Regions from separate parts of the Homo sapiens genome. Here region 2 is linked to region 1. A link means that fine-mapping ties the variant in region 1 to the expression of a gene that starts in the linked region. Tissue or cell type: sun-exposed skin. Region 1 holds a variant in brackets; the other region holds the start of a gene. All regions are shown on one strand. Distances are from middle to middle.

Region 1 (2,910 bases):
AATTCTCCTGCCTCAGCCTCCCAAGTAGCTGAGATCACAAATGTGCACCACTACGCCTGGCTAATTTTTGTATTTTTAGTAGACACAGGGTTTCACCATGTTGGCCAGGCTGGTCTCGAACTCCTGGCTTCAAGCGATCCACCCCTCTCAGCCTCCCAAAGTGCTGGGATTACAAGAGTGAGTCACTATGCCCAGCCTTTTAAATTTTCTTCAATAAATTTTATTTCACATATTTGAGATTCACAACATGATGTTATAGGACACAAATAGTAAAAGAGTTACCTTTTTTGTGTGTGTGACAAGAGCAGTTAAAATCTAATTACTTAACAAAACTCCCTGATAAATATAATTTTGTTAACTTTAGTCCTCATGTTCTGTATTAGATCTCTGGCCTTGTTGATCCTAGATATCTATTTTGTATCCTTTGATCTATATCCCCCCATTTCTTCCCCCCAACCCCTGACCATGGTAAGCACTGTTTAATTCTCTGTGTATGTACCTGAGCTCTCTCCTTTTTTTAGATTCATCAGCTCCCCTGGTTCTCAGGCCTCTGCACTCAGGCGAGAATTACATCTCCAACTTTCTTGGACCCTCAGATCATGGGATTTCTTGGCCTCCATAATCACACAAGCCAATTCCTCATAATAAATCTCTTCTTTTCTATGTATCTTGTTGGTTCTGTTTCTGTGGAGAATCCTGACATGCCAATATACTTTCCATATGGTTTCTGATTGGGTCTGACCAATGGGAAGTTCCAAAGGATTCACAGGGTAGTGGAAGAGAGAGGTCTGGATATTTCTTTCCCTGGTTCTCCCTGCTGTGGGTTTACTCAGGTTCTGGCTGTGTTCCACAGTTACAGCTTCTGTTGTGTGGCCTCTCCTCCACGGCTCCAAGCTCTCTGTGGGTTCTGGTATTACTACTCCATCTCCTCACTTCTCTCCTCCACGGCTCCAAGCTCTCTGTGGGTTCTGGTATTACTACTCCATCTCCTCACTTCTCTCCTCCACGGCTCCAAGCTCTCTGTGGGTTCTGGTATTACTACTCCATCTCCTCACTTCTCTCCTCCACGGCTCCAAGCTCTCTGTGGGTTCTGGTATTACTACTCCATCTCCTCACTTCTCTCCTCCACGGCTCCAAGCTCTCTGTGGGTTCTGGTATTACTACTCCATCTCCTCACTTCTCTCCTCCATGGCTCCAAGCTCTCTGTGGGTTCTGGTATTACTACTCCATCTCCTCACTTCTCTCCTCCATGGCTCCAAGCTCTCTGTGGGTTCTAGTATTACTACTCCATCTCCTCACTTCTGCAGGCCTAGTGATGGAGGGGAAGGGATTCTTGCTATTGGTAATCCCTGGGCGCTCTATCATCCCTTGTTAGTTACCTTAGCCAGGCCCATATCTCCATAAATACTTCCTTCACTAGACTCTCTTCAGTTAAACCCTTGGAGTGCATCTTTCAGGACTCTCCCTGCAGAAGAGCTGAATGTTTTGAGGCCTGCCATGTTCACAAAGACAAGCTTGGTCTAGAAATTCACTCCATCTAAGGTTGTGTGAAGAGGAAGCAAAAATTCCCCAAGTGGGTTATTAATATAACAACAAGAGAAGCCACTCCCCTCCCCACTCCAGGGTTTCAAGACATGCATCAACAAGTCAGGCAGATTCCAGGAAATGCAAAAG[G/A]TGTGACTGAGATGAGCTTTACAAAAGCAACCCTCATGCACAGCTGGTGGGAATGCAAAACAGTAGTCATTTTGGAAAATAGTTTGGCATTTTCTTATAAACTTAAATTTACCATATCTATTCTCACACTGCTAATAAAGACAAACCCAAGACTGGGTAATTTATGAAGGAAAGAGGTTTAATGGACTCACAGTTCAGCATGGCTGGTGGGGGGGCCTCACAATCACGGTGGAAGGCAAAGGAGAAGCAAAGGCACATCTTAAATGGCAGCAGGCAAGGGACTTTGTGCGGGGGAACTCCCTTTTATAAAATCATCAGATCTCAAGAGACTTATTCACCACCACAAGAACAGTATGGGGGAAACCACCCCCACGATTCAATTATCTCCGCCTGGCCCCACCCCTGACCCTTGGGGATTACTACAATTCAAGGTGAGATTTGGGTGTGGACACAGCCAAACCATATCACCATATGACCCTGAAATCACACTCCTAGGTATTTACTCTAGTAAAATGAAAACCTATGTTCATACAAAAAACTGTACATGAATGACAATAGCAGTTTTCATAACTGCCAAAAGCTGAAAACAACCCAAATGCCCCTCAACTGCAGGATGGATCTGAAGCAGTGGTATGTTCATATGATGGAATACTGCCCAGGGACAAAAGCAGAGGCCCGCTGGGGACACTCAACTCGGATGCATCTCCAGGGTGTTATGCTGGGTGAAAGCGGTCAGTCTCTAAAGGTTTTATAAAAGTATGATTCCATTTATATGCCAATATTTTAGGGGTAGAGAAAAAATCAGCCGTTCCCTGAGGTCAGGGCTGGGGAGGATTTGATTTTAAAAGGGTAGCATGAGGGAGTTTTGAGGGGTGACGGAACTGTTCTGTATCTTGATTGCTGAGGTGATAACACAGTTCTGCATGTTATCAAAAAGGCGTACATTTTACTGCATGACAATTAAAAAAGTTAATTTAAAAAAAGGTAAGAAAAGTACAGAATCAGCTGACAGATATTTTCCAGAATGCAGGGAAAAAAAAATTCAAGGAGACTAACAAAAAGATCTATTTATTCACTATCAGTTGTCCACACAGTCAGTAACTAATATACAAACAAAAGTTCACTTGCCTTTACTTAAACCTAAGTGGAAGTCATTTTACCTGAGTCAAAAACTCAGAAATCCTGAAATTTCCCTCAGTGGGAGCAGTGTGCACACCCAGCCCATCCTGGCCTCCT
Region 2 (2,910 bases), 32 kb after region 1:
TCCTTCCTGTCACACTGTTGCTAAGCACATTTAATATATTGTGCTCTTGAAAACCTTTTGTCCTGAACTTTAAACAAATAATGTGGCTGGAAAATGTGTGGTTGCTGCCCGCCACATCAAATGCACTATTTCCTGAAGATGTTGCTAGTTCACCGCAGCTGTCCTTCCTAAAGGACTGCAGAACATCTCAGCCTGAGAAGCTTCAGGACTCAGAAAGTATGATGTTAAAAGAAGATAATTTATCCTTTCTACAAATCATAAAATACTGTATTAAATAAAAATGTTAAATATACAGCTATCCTCTCAAGATGAACCACCAAAACAAGAGCACAAAAAGCGAAAACTTCTCGTCCAAAAAAAACCCAACAACAAAAAAGAACCAGAGGGAATGAGAGTTTACATACGCAGCTGTTAGTCTTTCTGACCAAGGAAAGAATGAGTTTTAAACACTCCAGCATTTTTTCAAACAAATGAAAACACTATTTCTGCTACTGAAAAAGATGCGTGGCAGGCTCTTTAATGGACGAATTGAGAAATCAACAGCATTTGGTTAAGTCTGGCGACTGCTGGAAATCCGGCGGCTCCCCAGGCCACACGGGACCACCGAGCAGGGCAGGGCGGGCCAGCCGCAGGGCACTGGGAGGGCACTCCCCCGGGGCGCCCCCGCACCTGCCCCCGCAGTTGAAAACCTTTCGGTGCGCACCGTCTCGGCCCGCCCCGCCCGCGTCCTCTCCAGTGTCCCCACCGCCCGGTTACCTGTGCGCCGGCCTCCTGCGCCGCCTCTAGCTCCGCGCTCTCCAGCGTGGCCTGGCGGCTCCGCTCCTCGGCGAGGCACAGCCGCAGGCTGCACAGGCGGTGGCGCAGGTCGCAGTTCTCGGCCCGGAGCTGCGCCACCTCCCGCGTGAGGCACGGCCCCTCCGCCTGGCAGCTGTAGGGCGCGTTCAGCTGCTCGTCCCTCAGGCGCTCGACCTCCGACCACAGCCAGCGGATGTCCTCCTCCTGCCGCTCCAGGCGCGACGCCACGGCCTCCGCCGCCAGGGCCTCGGCCGCCATCGCGGCCTCCCTCAGGCACCGACGCCGAGCGGGGTGCCCGCGACTGCGGCGAGGGCGACGCGGACACTCAGCGCACGGCAGAAGACAGGGCTCCCGGGAGGGGCGGGGCGATGGGGCGGGGACGGAGCCATGGGGCCTCGTTGGAGCCGAGGCCTACACGTTGCAGGGGCGGGGCGCTGGGCGGGGAGGGGCGGGGCCTAGGCCAGATACCCTGCAGGGGCGGGGCGGGGCGGGGCGGGGCCTGAGGCCAGATACCCTGCAGGGGCGGGGCGGGGCGGGGCCTGAGGCCAGGCCCACCTTAGGGTCACGGGCAGTGGGGAAATGGGGTCTGAAGGGCCTCCCCTGCCTTTCGAGGCCTGTCTAGAGGCTATTGGCAGTAGTTTTTAGTCCGTTGAAACGAAAATCTTCCAAAACCTTGCAAAAAGGCCATCGTCTGCGTTCTCCAAAAAGGCTTCACCCTTTCTTCCTCTTGAATTCTGGCAGTCACCATTCTTTTGCCTTGCAAACAGGTTCTAAAAAGTGGCCATTCATTATAAATGGACTTTCTGGCCTTTCGTGCCAAACTTGCCCAAGTACTGAGGCCTCTGGGCCAGGGCATATAGAAAATCGCTGTGAAATCTAAATCCGACCAGCACGAAATTACTGGCTCCTTGAGTCTAGGGCAAATGCCACATATATCTTTGTATCCCTCTTAACCATGAGCGTGAAACTTCCTGGAGCAGGAACAGAAATTGATTTTTATCACTATTCTTAGGGCTTAGGATGTGACAAACACTGTTCTAAACTCTGTAACAGTAGTAACTCCTTTAATCTTCATAACAGGAGATACTGTTATATCCGCTTATAGCTGGAGAAATTGAAGCACAGTGAGACTGTGTTACTTGACTAAGGTCACACAGCCACTACATGACAAAGGGGGAATCAAACTCAGATAGTCTGATGCCAGTTTCTACACACTTAACACTAGTACTTTTCAACTTTGGCAGAATTTAATTGAGCATGTCATATAATGTGATACAGGTAATAATGCCCTTATAAGAGTCCTGAAGTGGAAGAGCTTAGCTTGGACTGGTGTGGTTTGAGAAAGGGAGAAAATTTTGAGAAAGGGGAAAAGGTTTATTTTGCTCTGGAAAATAAAGGTTGGGAGATGTTAGCAAGGAGGAAAAGCAGGTAAATTCCACTCCAGGAGCAGAATCAGTGCAGGAGAAGGAGCGGAGGGGGACAAGCTCATTGGATTAAGCTAAGTGGAATCCCAAACAGCACCCAGGAGGAGATTCCATGAAGTATGTTGCTAACCAATATCACTGTATCTTTTTTAGTCCTTCCTCAGGAAGCCTCTGGATACAGTTACATAGGACCCACTGACTCCTCATTATTCATCATTTCTCAATCCACTGCCATGGAGTTTCTGCTTCTGCCATTCTGTCATGACCAACACATCACTGAATGTCATGGACCCACTTAAGCCACCCCAGAATTTCCTCGGGACCCTCTGGAATTTGTCTCTCTTGGGTCTCCATTCCCAATACCTAGGCAACCACCAGTCTGCTTCCTGTCACTATAGGTTAGTTTGCATTTTCTTGATTTTTCTACACATGGAACCACACCGTATGTCCTCCTTTTGTTTAGCTACTTTCAGTCGGCACAATAATTTTGATATTTACCTATGTTTGTGTGTATCTATTGTTCTTTTTTTCTGAGTAGTATTCCATTGTATGGATATACCATAATTTGTTTATTCATTTGTTGATGGAAAATTTGGGTTATTTCCAGGTTTTAGCTAGGATCACACAATACCCAGTGAGCCCATTGGGTTTCCAAACTCACACTGTAGTTATTTCGTCAGTTCCAGAATGC

Which allele goes with the higher level. Positions count from the first base shown, and alleles are read on the strand shown. Sizes are in standard deviations (SD) of each study's normalised expression.
With allele A in place of G in region 1, the expression in sun-exposed skin of the gene that starts at base 1,139 in region 2 is lower (small effect, 0.26 SD a copy in GTEx).

Evidence for each region. PIP is the estimated chance that this variant, and not a neighbour inherited with it, causes the effect.
Region 2: it holds the start of TARS3, and the variant in region 1 is fine-mapped to the expression of TARS3 in sun-exposed skin (GTEx, PIP above 0.99). The same link has a PIP of 0.9 or more in esophagus mucosa.

The regions. Positions count from the first base shown.
Region 1 is chr15:101,691,383-101,694,292 of GRCh38, forward strand. The region is part of intron 10 of TARS3 (threonyl-tRNA synthetase 3); the gene reads right to left. Among named protein-coding and RNA genes, the nearest start is that of TARS3, 32 kb to the right of the region's middle. The variant G/A (reference allele first, on the strand shown) is at 1,675.
Region 2 is chr15:101,723,335-101,726,244 of GRCh38, forward strand. TARS3 (threonyl-tRNA synthetase 3) reads right to left here and starts at 1,139. Exons shown (of 19, transcript NM_152334.3): 1 at 757-1,139. The coding sequence starts at 1,053. RefSeq lists a silencer at 535-1,424.